Linked DNA regions of Homo sapiens: region 2 is linked to region 1. The links come from fine-mapping of genetic effects on plasma protein levels. A gene starts in region 1. The other region holds a variant in brackets. All regions are shown on one strand. Distances are between the middles of the regions. Region 1 holds the start of FSTL3 (follistatin like 3). Region 2 holds the start of PRSS57 (serine protease 57).

What was found. PIP is the posterior inclusion probability: the model's chance that the variant is causal. Protein levels are from antibody-based Olink assays in UK Biobank. Linkage for the fine-mapping came from a reference panel and not from the study's own genotypes, which makes the PIPs less certain.
Region 2: its variant is fine-mapped to the plasma level of the FSTL3 protein (UK Biobank, PIP 0.91).

What each region holds. Positions count from the first base shown.
Region 1 is chr19:671,569-679,876 of GRCh38, forward strand. It overlaps FSTL3 (follistatin like 3), which reads left to right and starts at 4,824. Exons shown (of 5, transcript NM_005860.3): 1 at 4,824-4,958; 2 at 6,224-6,409. The coding sequence starts at 4,856. RefSeq lists an enhancer at 7,178-7,680 and a silencer at 8,135-8,308.
Region 2 is chr19:688,879-697,198 of GRCh38, forward strand. It overlaps PRSS57 (serine protease 57), which reads right to left and starts at 6,574. Exons shown (of 5, transcript NM_001308209.2): 1 at 6,474-6,574; 2 at 5,936-6,089; 3 at 2,980-3,124. The coding sequence starts at 6,552. It also overlaps the pseudogene RPS2P52. The variant G/A (reference allele first, on the strand shown) is at 3,912.

The sequences.
Region 1 (8,308 bases):
ACCCGGGCTGGAGTGCAGTAGTGGGAGCAGAAAGGGGGAACCAGCCCCAGGCTGGCCCTCGTCGTGTGGTCCATGGGAGGCACAGGGGTCCTGGAAGCTTCTGAACCTGGTGCTGACCCTAGTCCTGACTCTGCAGGTCTGTGTGACTCCAAGAAAATCACTTCCCACCCTCCAACCTCATCCCTATAAATGGGGCGCCTGCCTCACAGCCTCCCAGCAAGCAGCAAAGGGGACTCACCATGGTCCCGTTCTGCACGAGCACCCATTGACTGGGTAATTAACAGGAATCTATGCACGCCATGGCCCTACTGTGCGCCTGGCACTGTCCACATCCCACCTGGAACCTCTAACACTGGGGTCTGTGCCCATGTTACAGATAAGAAAACAGGCATAGGCTGGGCACGGTGGTTCACGCCTGTAATCCCAGCAATTTGGGAGGCCAAGGCAGCTGGATCGCCAGAGGTCAGGAGTTCGAGACCAGCCTGGCCAACATGGTGAAACCCATCTCTACTAAAAATACAAAAAATTAGCTGGGTCTGCTGGTGCATGCCTGTAATTCCAGCTACTCAGGAGGCTGAGGCAAGAGAATTGCTTAAACCCGGGAGGCAGAGGTTGCAGTGAGCCGAGATTGCGCCACTGCACTCCAGCCTTGGCAACAAGAGCGAAACTCTGTCTCAAAAAAAAAAAAAAAGAAAGAAAAAGAAAACAGGCCTAGAAGGGTCCCAGGGCCTGGCACACAGTGGGCACCCACGGCTGCTATAACAAATTTGCACAAACTGCCTGGCTTAAAGCAACACACGGGCTGGGCGCAGTGTCTCATGCCTGTAATCCCAGCACTTTGTGAGGCCAAGATGGGCAGATCACCTGAGGTCAGGAGTTTGAGACCAGCCTGACCAACATGGCAAAATCCCGTCACTGCAAAAAAAAAAAAAAAAAGTAGCCGGGTGTGGTGGGAGGCGCCTGTAATCCCACTTAGTCTGGAGGCTGAGGTTGCAGTGAGCCGAGATCGCACCTCTGCACTCCAGCCTGGACAACAGAGTGAGGCCCTGTCTCAAAAAAATAAAAATGGCCAGGCATGGTGGCTCACACCTGTAACCCCAGCACTTTGGGAGGCCAAGGCGGGTGAATCACTGAGGTCAGGAGTTCAAGACCAGCCTGGCCAACATGGCGAAACCGCGTCTCTACTAAGAATACAAAAATTAGCCAGTTGTGGTGGCAGGTGCCTACAATCCCAGCTACTCGTGAGGCTGACGCAGAAGGATTGCTTGAACCCGGGGGCGGAGGTTGCAGTGAGCCGAGATCGCGCCATTGCACTCCAGCCTAAGCAACAGAACGAGACTACGTCTCAAAAAAAAAAAAAAAAAAGTTCCACACGGGTCTGGCTGGGAGAAGATCGAGGTGTTGGCAGAGCTGCATTCCTTCTGGCAGCTCCAGGAGAGAATCTGTTCCGCGCCTTTCCAGGCTCCTAGAGGCCGCCCACATTCCCTGGCTTGAGCCCCCTTCCTCCATCTCCAAATCCCGCAATGGCAGCCAAGTCCTTCTCTTATCCTGTCTCTAACCATAGAGGGCAGGCGTCTCCTTTTTTTTTTTTTTTTTTTTGAGACAGAGTCTCGCTCTGTCACCCAGGCTGCAGTGCAGTGGCACGATCTCGGGTCACTTCAACCTCTGCCTCCCAGGTTCAAGTGATTCTCCTGCCTCAGCCTCCCAAGTAGCTGGGATTACAGGTGCACAATACCAGGCCCACCTAATTTTTTTGTATTTTTAGTAGAGACGGGGTTTTACCATGTTGGCCAGGCTAGTCTCGAACTCCTGACTTCAAGTGATCCTCCTGCCTCGGCCTCCCAAAGTGCTGGGATTACAGGCGCACACCACCAGGCCCACCTAATTTTTTTGTATTTTTAGTAGAGACAGGGTTTTACCATGTTGGCCAGGCTAGTCTCGAACTCCTGACCTCAAGTGATCTGCCTGCCTCGGCCTCCTAATGTGTTGGAGGTTCACAGGTGTGAACCTAATGTGTTGGTGGTTCACAGGTGTGAACCACCGCGCCCGGCCAGGCATCTCCTCTTCTACGGACCCTTCCAGGACAGTGGGCCATCCGTATAACCCAGGATGAACCCCTGTGTGAAAGCCCTCAACTCAGTCCCATCTGCAGAGCCCCTTTGGCCAGGGAGGGTGGGACACCCACGGGTTCTAGGGATGAGGGCCCCATGGTCTCTGGGACCGCCGTTCTGCTGACCACCCCCCACTGCTCTCCCCCTCACTCACAGCACAAGCGTCTGTTTCCAGCGCACACCCCTGCCGCTCCGTCTGACGTTCGAGTCTCAACCTCAACGTCTCTTTCCTCTGGGAAGCCTTCCTCAGTCTCCCCCAGGCCCGGGTCAGGCCTGGGGCACCTTTGCCATCTGGGCATCCTCCGCCACAGAACAACACTGGATTGTCACTGTCTGTTTACCTGTCAGGATGTACCTGGAGGGAGACAGAAGCCTGGGGGGTGAGCAGAGGCCACGAGGAGCCACGGTGGGTGTCTGAGCCAGGGAGAAGTGTTATGGCAGCTGGGGTAGGAAGTGGGCCGCAGGGGCCAGGCTGCGGGCTGGAAGTCCTAGGATGAGCCTCGGGCCTGGATAGGGTGGGGAGAGGGGCAGAGCCGGGAGAGGGGAGGTCATCACTGGGGTCTCAGGAGGAGGCGGCGCTCTGGAAAGGGTCAGTGACCTGTTAGAGGTCACCCTGCACAGAGCCTCTGGGTTAGGGAAGACAGAGCCGGGAGCAGGAGGCCACTGGCAGCTGGCCTCGGTTTCCCCGGAGAGGGCCGGAACCCACGCCAGCCAGACAATGACCCTTTGATTCGCACAGCCCAGGCCGGAGTGGCCAAGCCACGGCGGGGTCAGGTCTTGGCCAAGGTCACACTGTCCAGCCCCCGCACATCCTCAGTGAGAACACAGGGTCCCATCCCTGCCCCACTCCCCAATCCCGGGAGAGTCCCGGGGGAATGCCAGAGGCCAAGGCCAGGTCGAGACGGCGGGGTGTCCCCCGTCAGTGAGAACACAGGGTCCTGTGCCTGCCCCACTCCCCAAGCCGGGGAGATTCCCGGGGGAAATGCCAGAGGCCAAGGCCAGGTCGAGACGGCGGGGTGTCCCCCCTCAGTGAGAACACAGGGTCCCGTCCCTGCCCTGCTCCCCAAGCCGGGGAGATTCCCGGGGGAAATGCCAGAGGCCAAGGCCAGGTCGAGACGGCGGGGTGTCCCCCCTCAGTGAGAATACAGGGTCCCGTCCCTGCCCTGCTCCCCAAGCCGGGGAGATTCCCGGGGGAAATGCCAGAGGCCAAGGCCAGGTCAAGACGGCGGGGTGTCCCCCCTCAGTGCCACTAAGGCAGAACTTGGCCCCTGGCCACTGGCTGCTGGGGGACACAGGCTGGGCAGCTAAGGTGGAGGAAAGGGTACAGGTGTGTCTTCTGTGGGCACAGATCTCACTCAGGCCAGAGAAGGGGCTGTGCCGTGGGGCTGCTGGACACGTCCGTTTCCACCTGCGGGGTGGGCAATGCCGGCACAGCGAGTGGCCAGACACAGGCATGCCCAGCAGACACCCAACCGCTCTCCACCACCTCAACCTTCTGTATTTTCCTGAAAGCATTTACCACTCCTTGAAGTTATAGATTAATTTGTCTCTGCATTTTGTTGTCCAAACCAGGAGCTCGGTGAGGGTGTGATGGGGTCTGCCTTGGTCACCGTGGCACCCCAGCACCCCGCAGGGTCCCTCTGGCCAAAAGAGATGTTCACTGATGCCCTAGAAGCAGGAACAGAGGGGCTCCCCTGCGCTCGCCAAGGGCGCCTGACAAATCTGGAGGCCCCCATGACAGAATCAGCTCCAGAGTAGGAAATGTGTCTGGCTGCACGAAAGCCCCCTCGGGCGCAGCGCCTCCAGGCCCACGCAGATGTCGCTGTCATACATTGTTGGAAACGCCTCTGCTGGAAACAGTGTTTGCTGAATCTTGGAGGGAGAGGAAAAAACCTAGTAAACATTCTTGTTGAGGTGATCTGGGGGAATGTCTGCAAAGGCTTGGAGGGCTGATGGGGCAGAGCTGCCCAGGGGCCCAGGACAAAGGCCAGGCGTGCGCGCGCACACACACACACACACACACACACACACGCAGTGGCCTCCCTGGGGGCCGTGGCTGGGCGAGGCCTGCTGTTGTCCGAGATGCTGGAAGGAGCTGTGTCTCTGGGTCTGTCCCGGCCGCACCCCGTTCTGTCCCACACCCAACCACTCCCCACCCACAGGCCGGCTCCAGCGGCCAGGTGGACGGGTGCGCGGCCCGCGCTGTGAGCAGGGAACCATATCCAGCTGAGGTTTTGGGTGTGTGGGGCGGGTCGGGAACAAGGAGGCCGGGTTGGGGGGCTCAGACCACACTTGGACCATGAAAGTGACCACATGCAAATCACAGAAACGGGATGCAGGGATCCACAGACGTGCTCCTCTTGGGTCCCCGTTACCTCACCGCCACCCCTGAAACTGAAGACCCCCAAACCCACTTTAATTCCTGGAGACGGCCCCTCGATCCACCCAAAAGGCTGCCACCACCTCGAACCCACACCCCTGTCCCGGTTCCGCCCTGGGTCCAGCCACATCTCCCCAAATGCATTCTCTGGCTCCGGAAGGGGACCCGGGCGCTCGCCCCCAACTGCCCCCCGCAGCGGCCGGGCCCGGCGCCTGCCCACCCCGCGCGGGACACGGCCTCGCCCCCGCCACTCCCGCGCCGCGCCCCGCCCCGCGCCCCGCCCCGCCCGCGGCCCGCGGGACCTTTATAGGGAGCGCCGGCCGCGCGCTGGGAAGTCGGTGCCGCTGCCGTCTCTGCGTTCGCCATGCGTCCCGGGGCGCCAGGGCCACTCTGGCCTCTGCCCTGGGGGGCCCTGGCTTGGGCCGTGGGCTTCGTGAGCTCCATGGGCTCGGGGAACCCCGCGCCCGGTGAGTGGGGCGGCCAGAGGGGCGGGCGGGGCGGGCCACCCACGTGGGGCTGCGCGGAATGCGGCCGGGGGGACGTCGGGGGGCGCGGCGGCGGCGGCGGGGGCGAGGGCGGTGTCCGGCGCAAGCTGGAGCCGGGAAGGTCTGAAGGAGGGTCACCAAGAGGTCAGCAGAGCAGAGGTTTCTAATCACAATGACCGCTGACATTTATTGAGCGCTTAGTGTCTACCTCTCCCCTCCCTGAACCTGTGCCATCCCGATAGTGCCGGAGCTCTCTTCATCTCCGTCTTCCAGATGGGGAAACTGAGGCTCAGGGTCACACAGCCTGTAGCAGGCAAAGCCAGGGTTCTAGCCGCGACCGTCCGGGTCGGTCCTGGTGCCGAGAGGTAGTGCTGGGTGTCGGGAGCCAGGCCCTCCAGCTGGGGCTGAGAGCTTTCCCGGGTCCTGGGTAGACGGGGCATGGAGTCTCACACCTGGGACTTGCCGGGAGGTGCCAGGCAGGAGACGGCCCCACTCCTGGCCTCAGTTTCCCCTCCTATGATGGGTGCCAAGGTGCTGCGTTCCACAAGCTGGTCCCTGGCAGTGTCTGTGAACCAGCAAGCGCTCTGGGATGGGGGCTGTGGCCGTTCCTGCCCCCAGGGACGGGGGAAGAAATGGGGGGCTCTCTGGCTCCCCACCCCCCATCCCTGCAGCCCCACCCCACCCCAGCCCTGCGCCAAAGGGAGAGCAGAGCCCCCTCCCCGAAGGCCACGTCCCTGGGGAGACAGTGAGCTCATGCAAGGGGAATGTTCCCAAGTTGGAGTGAGTAAGAGGCGGGCCAGGCGGTGGGGGGGCTGCCAGGCGCGGGGCTCCGCGTGCCCTCGCCCTCGGGTGCTGTCTAGACAGAGGGCAGAGGCGGGAGAAGCGGCTCCAGGGCCTGCTGACCCTGACATGCCCAGTGCCTGGTGTTTGGTGGTGTTTGAGGGGTTGGGCAGGGTGCCAGCCCCTGGCCTGGGGGCTTGGAGGGTACGGGAAGGGACCTCCTGGGGTGGGTGGGGGTTGGTGGTGAGGCTGTGGGGGGGGGCACGTGGAGCTCAGAGGGGAGGAGACATTTCCAGGGTTCTGGAGCCAGGGTGGGGACACCCATGTGGTTTTCTGCCCCTTCTTCCTGGGTGGGGGTAGATCATTCCGTGCGTAACTACTCAGCACCACCTGCATGCATCTGTGGGCGGGCCAGAAGCTGGGTGTCAGGAGTGGCCCAGGAGAGCACCCCGTTCCCCGGCCCGCAGGTGGTGTTTGCTGGCTCCAGCAGGGCCAGGAGGCCACCTGCAGCCTGGTGCTCCAGACTGATGTCACCCGGGCCGAGTGCTGTGCCTCCGGCAACATTGACACCGCCTGGTCCAACCTCACCCACCCGGGGAACAAGATCAACCTCCTCGGCTTCTTGGGCCTTGTCCACTGCCTTCCCTGCAAAGGTGAGACCTCAGGCCAGAAGCAGGGCAGACGTCTCAGCTCAGGACCAGCCACAAACAGTCATGGTGGTCGAGGGCCGAACGTCCAGGGACTGAGCCCGTCACAGGGGTATGTAGGAGGCTGCAGGGGGATCCCAGCCTCAGAGAGGGACTGGGGGGACTTCCCGGTTCCCAGGCTCCAGCCTCTTGCAGCTCAGGACTCAGGAAGAGACCACGTGGCTCCAGCCTTTGCTGGGGCTGAGCTCTCTGCCTGGGTGGCTCTTCCCACCTGGTCGATAAATGTCTGGCTTGCACCTAGCTCCTGGGAAGGTGGGTTTGCCATTCTGGCCTGTGACCCCAAATGTCCACACCAGGGACCTTCACTGCAGACTCCAGGGTCTGCGGTGGGGTTACAGCTGCATGTTTAACAAGCATTTGCCTCGGGACCCTGTTTTGAGAGGATGCCTCCCACATCAGACTAGGGGCTCTTGGTTGGCGAGTGGCACAGAACGAATGAATAAGATTCTCCGCACTGGAGGATGATGGTTTTTTTTTTTTTTTTTTTTTTTTTTCCTGAGATGGAGCCTCGCTCTGTCACCCAGGCTGGAGTGCAGTGGTGCGATTTTGGCTCACTGCAACTTCGGCCTCCGAGGTTCAGGTGATTCTCTTTCCTCGGCCTCCCCAGGGGCTGGGACTGCAGGCGCGCGCCACCACACCTGGCTAATTTTTATGTTTTTGGTAGAGACAGGGTTTCACCACATTGGCCAGGCTGGTCTCAAACTCCTGACCTCAAGTGATCTGCCAGCCTTGGCCTCCCAAAGTGCTGGGATTACAGGCGTGAGCCACCATGCCTGGCCTGTTGGGGCACATCTTGAAGGAGGTGGGCATTAGAGCTGGGGTGTTGGGGGATGTCTAGGAGTTTGCCAGATGGGGCCGGTATGGGAGAGTGGATCAGGAGAGAACATGGCTTGAGGTTAGGTCCTGGTGGGTGGGGTCAGGCAGAGGAGCCAAGGGGAGGCTGAAGCTGAGGGCTGCAGACCCGAAGGCCAGGCTGAGGAACTCTGCTGGCCTCTGAGATGTGATTAATCCCAGATCAGCCTGGCTGGGTGGTCCTGAACTCACTGCCACATACCCCTGCTCCCTCCAGACCCCCCTCTGGCTTCTGGGAGAAGGACAGTCTTCAAAAAGTGCCTGGCCTGGGCATGAGACGGCCCAGGACCCCCCACCCCCAACCTCATCTGGCCCTGGGGACGGAACTCAGGCCCCCTTCCGTTCTCGCTCGCATAAAAGCCACCCTGGCCGAGCATTTCCAGATGTGCCTGTGAGCCGCTGTGCCGGGGCCGCCCAGGTGCGGCCCACATGCCCTGCAAGGGCTGCGTGGCGGGCGCTGGCCATCCCCTAAGGAGTGCCGCACTGCCTTGGAAGTGGGGCTCCCTCGTCAGCCCCACTTTACACACAGAGAAACTGAGGCTGGCACATAAACTCAACAGCTGTGTTCAGAGGCCCTACCAGACCCCCAGATAACAGAAAGGGGGTTGGTCATCTGGGTCCTGGCTGCAGCTTTCAAACTGAGGTGCTTGGGCCCCTGCACTCATAGCTGCGACCCGGCCTCAGTTTCCCCATCTGTAAAATGATGACTTGGGAAGATGCGATAAGCCTAGGAGGCGATGAGCATTCACATTGAAAGCGGGGGCGGGGACCCCAGAGAGAGCTTCCCTAGCAGGACCTCAATATCCCTGTCTGAGCAGCGGGGCTGCGGGGCAGCTCCTGGTTCAGAGGCCTAGGGCTGTGGGGGGCCCCCTCCCCTGGAATCGCTCCCCAGGCCAGGAGGGCCGTCCAGCGCCCCGCCCTCCCCGACGCCTCCTGGGGGAAGGTCCTGGCAGCCCCAGACTCGCGCCTGGCAAGGGCGGAACACCCCAGGCT
Region 2 (8,320 bases), 17 kb after region 1:
GTGAGCCACCACGCCCGGCCCCACACAGGGACTTTAAGCGTCTCCTCCACACAGGGCAGGGGCCCGAGAGGCACATTCATTCCATTTCAGCATAAACTTTGAGCGCCTGCTGTGTGCCATAAATGGCCATAAAGGTGATAAAAAATCCCTGCCCGTTAGGTTCAGAGGAAGCGGGAATGAGGAAGCGGGTGGTCCAGGGGTTAGCAGGTGACAAGCAGGTGACGACGGGGCCGGAAGGGTGGTCCAGGGGTTAGCAGGTGACGACGGTGCTAGAAGGGTGGTCCAGGGGTTAGCAGGTGACGACGGGGCTGGAAGGGTGGTCCACAGGTTAGCAGGTGACGACGGGGTGGTCCAGGGGTTAGCAGGAGATGACGGGGCCGGAAGGGTGGTCCAGGGGTTAGCAGGTGATGACGGGGCTGGAACAGGGTTGCAGGGAGGGGGTATGTGGTCCAGGGCGGCCTCCTGGGAAGGTAACATTTGAGCAAAGACTTGACAGGCGTGAGGGGAAAGGCTCGCGGTGTCTGGGGAACTGGTGCACTGGGTACAGCTGGTGCAGAGCTCGGAGCGGAGACTGTGCTGGGGATGGGATGGCCCATCCGGGAGGTCTGCTGGCCTCGAGTCAGAAAGGTGACAGGCATGGATTAGCAGGGCCTGTGGGCACCAGGAGGATTTGTCCTGCAGGAGGTGGGAGCCACTGGGGGGTCCAGGGCACAGGAGGAATGGGACCTGACGTCCAACTGTCTTTAAAACCTAAGTCAGGCCAGGCGCAGCAGCTCAGGTTTGTAATCCCAGCACTTTGCGGGGCTGAGGCAGGAGGATTGCCTGAGTCCAGGAGGTCAAGACCAGCCTGGGCAACATGGTGAAACCCCGTCTCTACTAAAAATATAAAAATTCGCCTGGCGCAGTGGTACACGCCCGTGATCCCGACACTTTGGGAGACCAAGGTGGGCGGATCACTTGAGGACCGGAGTTAAGACCAGCCTGGCCAACATGGTGAAATCCCATCTCTACTAAAAATACAAAAATTAGCCAGGTGTGGTGGTGGGTGCCTGTGATCCCAGCTACTCGGGAGGCCGAGGCAGGAGAATCGCTTGAACCCGGGAGATGGAGGTTGCAGTGAGCCCTGACTGTGCCACTTTACTCCAGCCCAGGTGCCAAAGTGAGACTCCGTCTCAAAAAATAGGCCAGGATTGGGAGGCAGAGGTGGGCGGATCACGAGGTCAAGAGATCGAGACCATCCTGGCAAACATGGTGAAACCCCATCTCTACTAAAAATACAAAAATTAGCCGGGCGTGGTGGCGGGCGCCTGTAATCCCAGCTACTCGGGGGGCTGAGGCAGGAGAATCGCTTGAACCTGGGAGGCAGAGGCTGCAGTGAGCCGAGATCGTGCTACTGCACTCCAGCCTGGGGACACAGGGAGATACTGTCTGAAAAAAAAAAAAATAGCCCAGGGCTGCTTCTCCTGGAAAACACTAAACGGCGGATGACGTCGGTGCAGTGGGGCGGCCCTGGGATGGGGAACGGCGCTGGCTTCCCCCGAGGCTTCGGCACTGGCTTCCGGGCTGGGGCCGCGGAGCTCACAGAGGCAAGACAGAGGATAAGGAGTAGACGCCTGTCACCAAGCTGGGCCGCCTGGTCAAGGACATAAAGATCATGTCCCTGGAGGAGATCTGTCTCTTCTCCCTGCCCATCAAGGAATCTGAGATCATTGACCTTTTCCTGAGGGCCTCTCTCCAGGACGAGGTTTTGGAGATTATGCCGGTGCAGAAGCAGATCCGCACCGGCCAGCGCACCAGGTTCGAGGCGTCTGTTCCCACCGGGGACTACAATGGCCACGTCGGTCTGGGTGTTGAGTGCTCCAAGGAGGTAGCCACTGCCATCATCGGGGCCGTCATCCTGGCCAAGCTCTCCGTTGTCCCCATGCACAGAGGCTACTGGGGGAACAAGATCGGCAAGCCCTACACCGTCCCTGGCAAGGTGACAGGCCGCTGCGGCTCTGCGCTGGTGTGCCTGATCCCCGTGTCCGGGGCGCTGGCATCGTCTGGGCGCCTGTGCTCAAGAAGCTGCTCATGATGGCTGGTATCGGTGACTGCTACACCTTAGCCAGGGGCTGCACTGCCACCCTGGGCCACTTTGCCAAGGCCGCCTCTGATATCCTCTCTAAGACCTACAGCTGCCTGACCCCTGACCTCTGTATTCCCCAAGTCTCTCTTTCAGGTATTCACTGGCCATCTTGTGAAGACTCACACCAGAGTCTCCGTGCAGACGCCCGGCTCCAGCTGTGGTTACAACATAGGGTTTTATACACGAAAAATAAAGTGAATTAAGCCTGGAAAAAAAAAATGGCCAGGCACGATGGCTCACGCCTGTAATCCCAACACTTTGGGAGGCTGAGGTGGGTGGATCACTGGGTCAGGAGTTCGAGACCAGCCTGGCCAACATAGTGAAACCCCATCTCTACTAAAAACACAAAAAACTAGCCAGGTCTGGTGGCGAGTGCCTGTAATCCCAGCTACTTGGGTGGCTGAGGCAGGAGAATCACTTGAGCCTGGGAGGCGGAGGTTACAGTGAGCCGAGATGGCGCCATTGCACTCCAGCCCCCGTGACAGTTCGAGACTCTGACTCAAAAAAAAAAAAAAAGAAAAGAAAAGAAAAGTAGGCCGGGCTCGGTGGCTCACGCTTGTAATCCCAGCCCTTTGGGAGGCCGAGGCAGGTGGATCATTTGAAGTCAGGAGCTTGAGACCAGCCTGGCCAACATGGTGAAACCCCGTCTCTACTAAAATACAAAAATTAGATGGGCTTGGTGGCGCGCACCTGTAATCCCATGTACTTGAGAGGCTGAGGCAGGAGAATCACTTGAACCCGGGAGGCTGAGGTTGCAGTGAGCCGAGATTGCGCCATTGCCCTCCAGCCCGAGCGACAGAGCGAGAGACTGTCTCAAAAACTAAACATACGTCAGATCCACCCCCGGGGCTCACCCGCAGCAGGCAGATGTCGTTGGCGTGGGTCATGGGGTGGTAGTCGGGGTGTGTGGTGAGAGCATCGATGCCAAACACCTGCTGGGTGGGCTCCGCAGTACTCAGGACGTGGGCGCCCAGCACCACCAGGCCAGTGCGGAGGTCTCTGCAGGGAGGAGGTGGTGGGTGAGACGGGGGTGAGGGCTGCCCGTCCTGGGCCTCGGTCCACTCATCTATGAAACGGAGGCCCAGGCCGGGCACGGTGGCTCACGCCTGTAATCCCAGCACTTTGGGAGGGTGAGGAGGGTGGATCACCTGAGGTCGGGAGTTCAAGACCAGCCTGATCAACATGGAGAAACCCCGTCTCTACTAAAAATACAAAATTAGCCAGGTGTGGTGGCACATGCCTGTCATCCCAGCTACTCGGGAGGCTGAGGCAGGAGAATTGCTTGAGCCTGGGAGGCGGAGGTTGCAGTGAGCTGAGATTGCACCATTGCACTCCAGCCTGAGCGACAGAACAAGACTCCGTCTCAAAAAAACAAAAAAAAAACAATTACTTTTGCATCAACTTAATATTCTTTTCCTTTTTTCTTTTTTTTTTTTTTTGAGACAGAGTCTCACTCTGTCCCCTAGGCTAGAGTGCAATCGAGGCTTACTGCAACCTCTGCCTCCTGGGTTCCAGTGATTCTCCTGCCTCAGCCCTCCAAGCAGCTAAGACTACAGGCGTGCGCCACCACTCCCAGCTAATTTTTGTATTTTCAGTAGAGACAGGGTTTCACCATGTTGGCCAGGCTGGTCTCGAACTCCTGACCTGAAGTGATCCACCTGCCTCGGCCTCCCAAAGTGCTGGGATTACAGGCGTGAGCCACGGTGCCCAGCCCCCAACTTAATATTATGATAATAAATTAATAATTATGTTTATTATTTTTCCTACCTCCAATATAGAATTAACT[G/A]CAATAGTTGTGGTATTAATTTGAATCATTATTATAAAAACATATTTAGAATGAAGATAATACTTATTATATTTATTATAAGTTCTATTTCAATTATAATATTAACTACAGTAATTTCAATATTCTCCTTTTTTTATTTCTTTAATTTTTTTTTTTGAGACGGAGTCTCGCTCTGTCACCCAGGCAAGATTGCAGTGGTGCAATCTTGGCTCTCTGCAAGCTCCACCTCCCGGGTTCACGCCATTCTCCTGCCTCAGCCTCCTGAATAGCTGGGACTACAGGCGCCCGCCACCATATCCGGCTAATTTTTTGTATTTTTTTTTAGTAGAGACAGGGTTTCACCGTGTTAGCCAGGACAGTCTCGATCTCCTGACCTCGTGATCCGCCTGCCTCGGCCTCCCAAAGTGCCGGGATTACAGGCGTGAGCCACCGCACCCGGCCTTTTTTTTTTTTTTTTTTTTGAGACAAGGTCTCACTCTGTCACCCAGGCCGCAGTGGTGTGATCACAGCTCACTGCAGCCTCGACCTCCCAGGCTCAAGCGATCCTCCCACAGCAGCCTTTCAAGTAGCTGGGACCACAGAAGCACAGCTCCGGTGCGGAGGACTCTGCGGGGAGGAGGGGGTGGGTGAGATGGGGGTGACGGCTGCCCGTCTGGGCCTCAGTCCACTCATCTATGAAATGGAGGCCCAGTAATCCATTTAATGCTCACGCCGGCCCCGTGATAATATTAGGTTGGTGCAAAAGTAATTGCACGAAAAAAATTAAATGGCAAAAACCACAATTAACTTTTTTTTTTCCGACAGAATCTCACTCTTTCCCCTAGGCTGGAGTGCAGTGGTGCCATCTCGGCTCACTGCCACCTCCACCTCCTGGGTTCAAGTGATTCTCCTACCTCAGCCTCCCGAGTAGCTGGGGATACGTACAGCCACTTGCTACCATGCCCAACTAATTTTCGTATTTTTTTTTTGAGACAGAGTCTCGCTCTGTCCCCCAGGCTGGAGTGCAGTGGCGCGATCTCGGCTCACTGAAAGCGCCGCCTCCCGGGTTCACGCCATTCTCCTGCCTCAGCCTCCTGGGTAGCTGGGACTACAGGCGCCTGCCACCACATCCGGCTAATTTTTTTGTATTTTTAGTAGAGATGGGGTTTCACTGTATTAGCCAGGATGGTCTCGATCTCCTGACCTCGTGATCCTCCTGCCTCGGCCTCCCAAAGTGCTGGGATTACAGGCATGAGCCACCGCACCCAGCCTAATTTTCGTATTTTTAGTAGAGACAGAGTTTCACCATGTTGGCCAGGCTGGTCTCATACTCCTGACCTCAAACAATCCACCGTGTCCCAACGTGAGGGGGACTGCAGGCTGGCGGGGGAGCTGGGGACACTGCAGCCCAGGACCAACCTATCCCGTGCCTGGTGGGGGCTCCTGCAGGAGGGGACCCACCCACCCTGGCCCCAATATACATTTTAATAGTTATTATAACAATATGTTTAAAACGAGGCAGGGCATGGCGGCTCACACCTGCAATCCCAGCACTTTGGGAGGCAGAGGCGGGTGGATCATTTGAAGTCAGGAGTTCGAGACCAGCCTGGCCAACATGGTGAAATCCAGTCTCTACTAAAAATGCAAAAATTAGCCAGGTGTGGTGGTGGGCGCCTGTGATCCCAGCTACTCGGGAAGCTGAGGCAGGAGAATCGCTTGAGCCCGGGAGGTGGAGGTTGCAGTGAGCCGAGATTGCACCGTTGCACTCCAGCCTGGGGAACCGAGACTGCCTCAAAAAAAAAAAAGAACATAGTGACAGTTACAGTAACAGAATATGTACTTGTTGCGCCTGTTGCTTCTTCTGTGCTTCTTTTGCCTCCCTGCCTTATCCTCCTGTTTTCCCTTTGTTGCCCTTTAAATCCAGCCCCTGCTGAGACTCCCCCTCCTGCAGGAGCCACGGCGCCCCCAGCTCCCCCACCAGCCTGGAGTCCCCCTCATGTCGGGATACGGTGTCCAGAAAGAAGGGGCCCGACAGGTGAGCTCACCTGTGGCTGAAGCAGTGGGCGGCCGAGACCACCCAGCGGGCTCGCAGCAGGAAGCCTCCGCAGTGATGTTGGCCCCCGAAGCGCACGGATGCCATGTAGGGCCTGGAGTGGGGGGTCACCTCGTGGCCCCCGATGATCTGGGCCCCCCAGGAGCCTGCTGGAGGGACGGCCTGAGTCAGGGACGAGGCGGGAGGAACGGATGACGGGGCTGGGGTCAGGGCAGGGGGAGAAGTAGCGGCCAAGACAGAGACAGGGGGTGAGATTAGAGACGGAGAGACCCAGAGAGCTGGAGACAGAGCCCAGACAAGCCCCCCAGATGCGCTGGGAGGGGCTCCCGAGCCCGGGAGATCCAGGGCTGGGCTGGGCAGAGACCCCGGCCGGATTTCCATCCATTTCCAGCAGAGGCAGCCACGGGGGCTCGGCAGATGGAGCAGGTGGAGCTCTCCCCAGGGTTCTCCCGGGACTGGGGGTTCCCGGGTGTGGCCCCCGTACGGGGACTTGGCGGGGGCCTGGGTGGGGATCCCGGGGGGCTCCTCACCGGGGGGCTTCACGGGCAGCATCAGGGCGGTGGCCACAGTCAGCAGAGGACGTCCCCAGCCCCTCAACCCGAGCCCCATGGCAGACGCAGGCTGGCGTCTCCCCGCAGAGGTCTTCGGGCCGTGGCTCCCACCCTCAGCCAACGGCCGGAAAGGGGGAGCCTGGCTGTGGCCTGTGGTCGGGAGGCCCCACCAGCAACGCCTGGAGCCCAGGCGGGCGTTTCTGAGAAATCGATGGTCTCAGGTGGTGGCTGGTAATAATCATGTTGATAATAATCATTGTCCCCTAGTCCGGAAACAGGGAGAGGAGGAGACAGCTCTGGGGCTGCAAGTGACCTCGGGAAGGCAATTGACCCTTCTGTGCCTCAGTTTACCCAGCCTCCACGTGGCCCAGCATGTGTGGGGAGCTTTCCGAGGAACCGAGGTCACAGCGGCACTCGAGACCCGCAGCTCGCCTCCGGCCCCCACCCCGCAAACCCCAGTCTTCCCATCTCCAAACCCAGGGCCGACCTCAGGGCTGTGGGGACAGCGAGGAAGGCCGGTCTCCTGGGAAGCTCTGATGATTTCTGCCTTTATTTTATTTTATTTTTATAGGTGGGGTTTTGCTATGTTGCCCAGGCTGGTCTCGAACTCCTGGGCTCCAGCGATCCTCCCTCCTCGGCCTTCCAAAGTGCTGAGATCACAGAAGACAGCCACTGCACCTGGCAGATTTCTGCCTTTATTCAGCAGTTATTGAGTGCCTAGTGTATACCAGACCTCATGCTAGGAGGTGAGGATGAGGCAGTGACCGCACCCCAGCCTGTAGCACTGACGTTCTGTGGGATCCGGAGTCCAGTGGGACATGGCTGTACATGGGGGTCTTCACCTTTTTTTTCTTTTCTTTTTTTTTTTGAGATGGAGTCTTGCTCTTGTTGCCCAGGCTAGAGTGGAATGGCACCATCTCGGCTCACCGCAACCTCTACCTCCCGGGTTCGAGTGATTCTCGTTCCTCAGCCTCCCGAGTAACTGGAACTACAGGCGCCCGCCACCACAGCCGGCTAATTTTGTTTCTGTATTTTTAGTAGAGACGGGGTTTCACCATATTAGCCAGGATGGTCTCGATCTCCTGACCTCATGATCCGCCCGCCTCGGCCTCCCAAAGTGCTGGGATTACAGGCATGAGCCACGGTGCCCGGCCTTTTTTTTTTTTTTTTTTTTTTTGAGAAGGAATCTTGCTCTTGTTGCCCAGGCTAGAGTGCAGTGGCGCGATCTTGGCTCACCGCAACCTCTGTCTCCTGAGTTCAAGGGATTCTCCTTCCTCAGCCTCCTGAGTAACTGGGATTACAGGTGCCCACCACCACGCCCCGCTAAATTTGTGTGTTTAGTAGAGACGGAGTTTCTCCATGTTGGTCAGGCTGGTCTCGAACTCCCGACCTCAGGTGATCCACCTGCCTCAGCCTCCCAAAGTGCTGGGATGACAGGCCTGAGCCACCGCGCCCAGCCCGGCAGGTCTTCACCTTTCAGTGGGAGCGTTCTTAGTGGCAAAGTTCAGGTCGTAAATTGCAGCTCACACAGCCGGGTGATGGCGTTCACGGCAGTGGCTAGCAGTGGGGTGCTCGTCAGCGCTTAATAATGAACAGGCTGGGGCCGGGTGCAGTGGCTCACGCCTATAATCCTAGCACTTTGGGAGGCCGAGGCAGGTGGATCACCTGAGGTCAGGAGTTCAAGACCAGCCTGGCCAACATAGTGAAACCCCGTCTCTACTTAAAGTACCAAAATTAGTCAGGCGTGGTGGCAGGTGCCTGTAATCCCAGCTACTTGGGAGGCTGAGGCAGGAGAATCGCTTGAACCGGGAGGTGGAGGTGGCAGT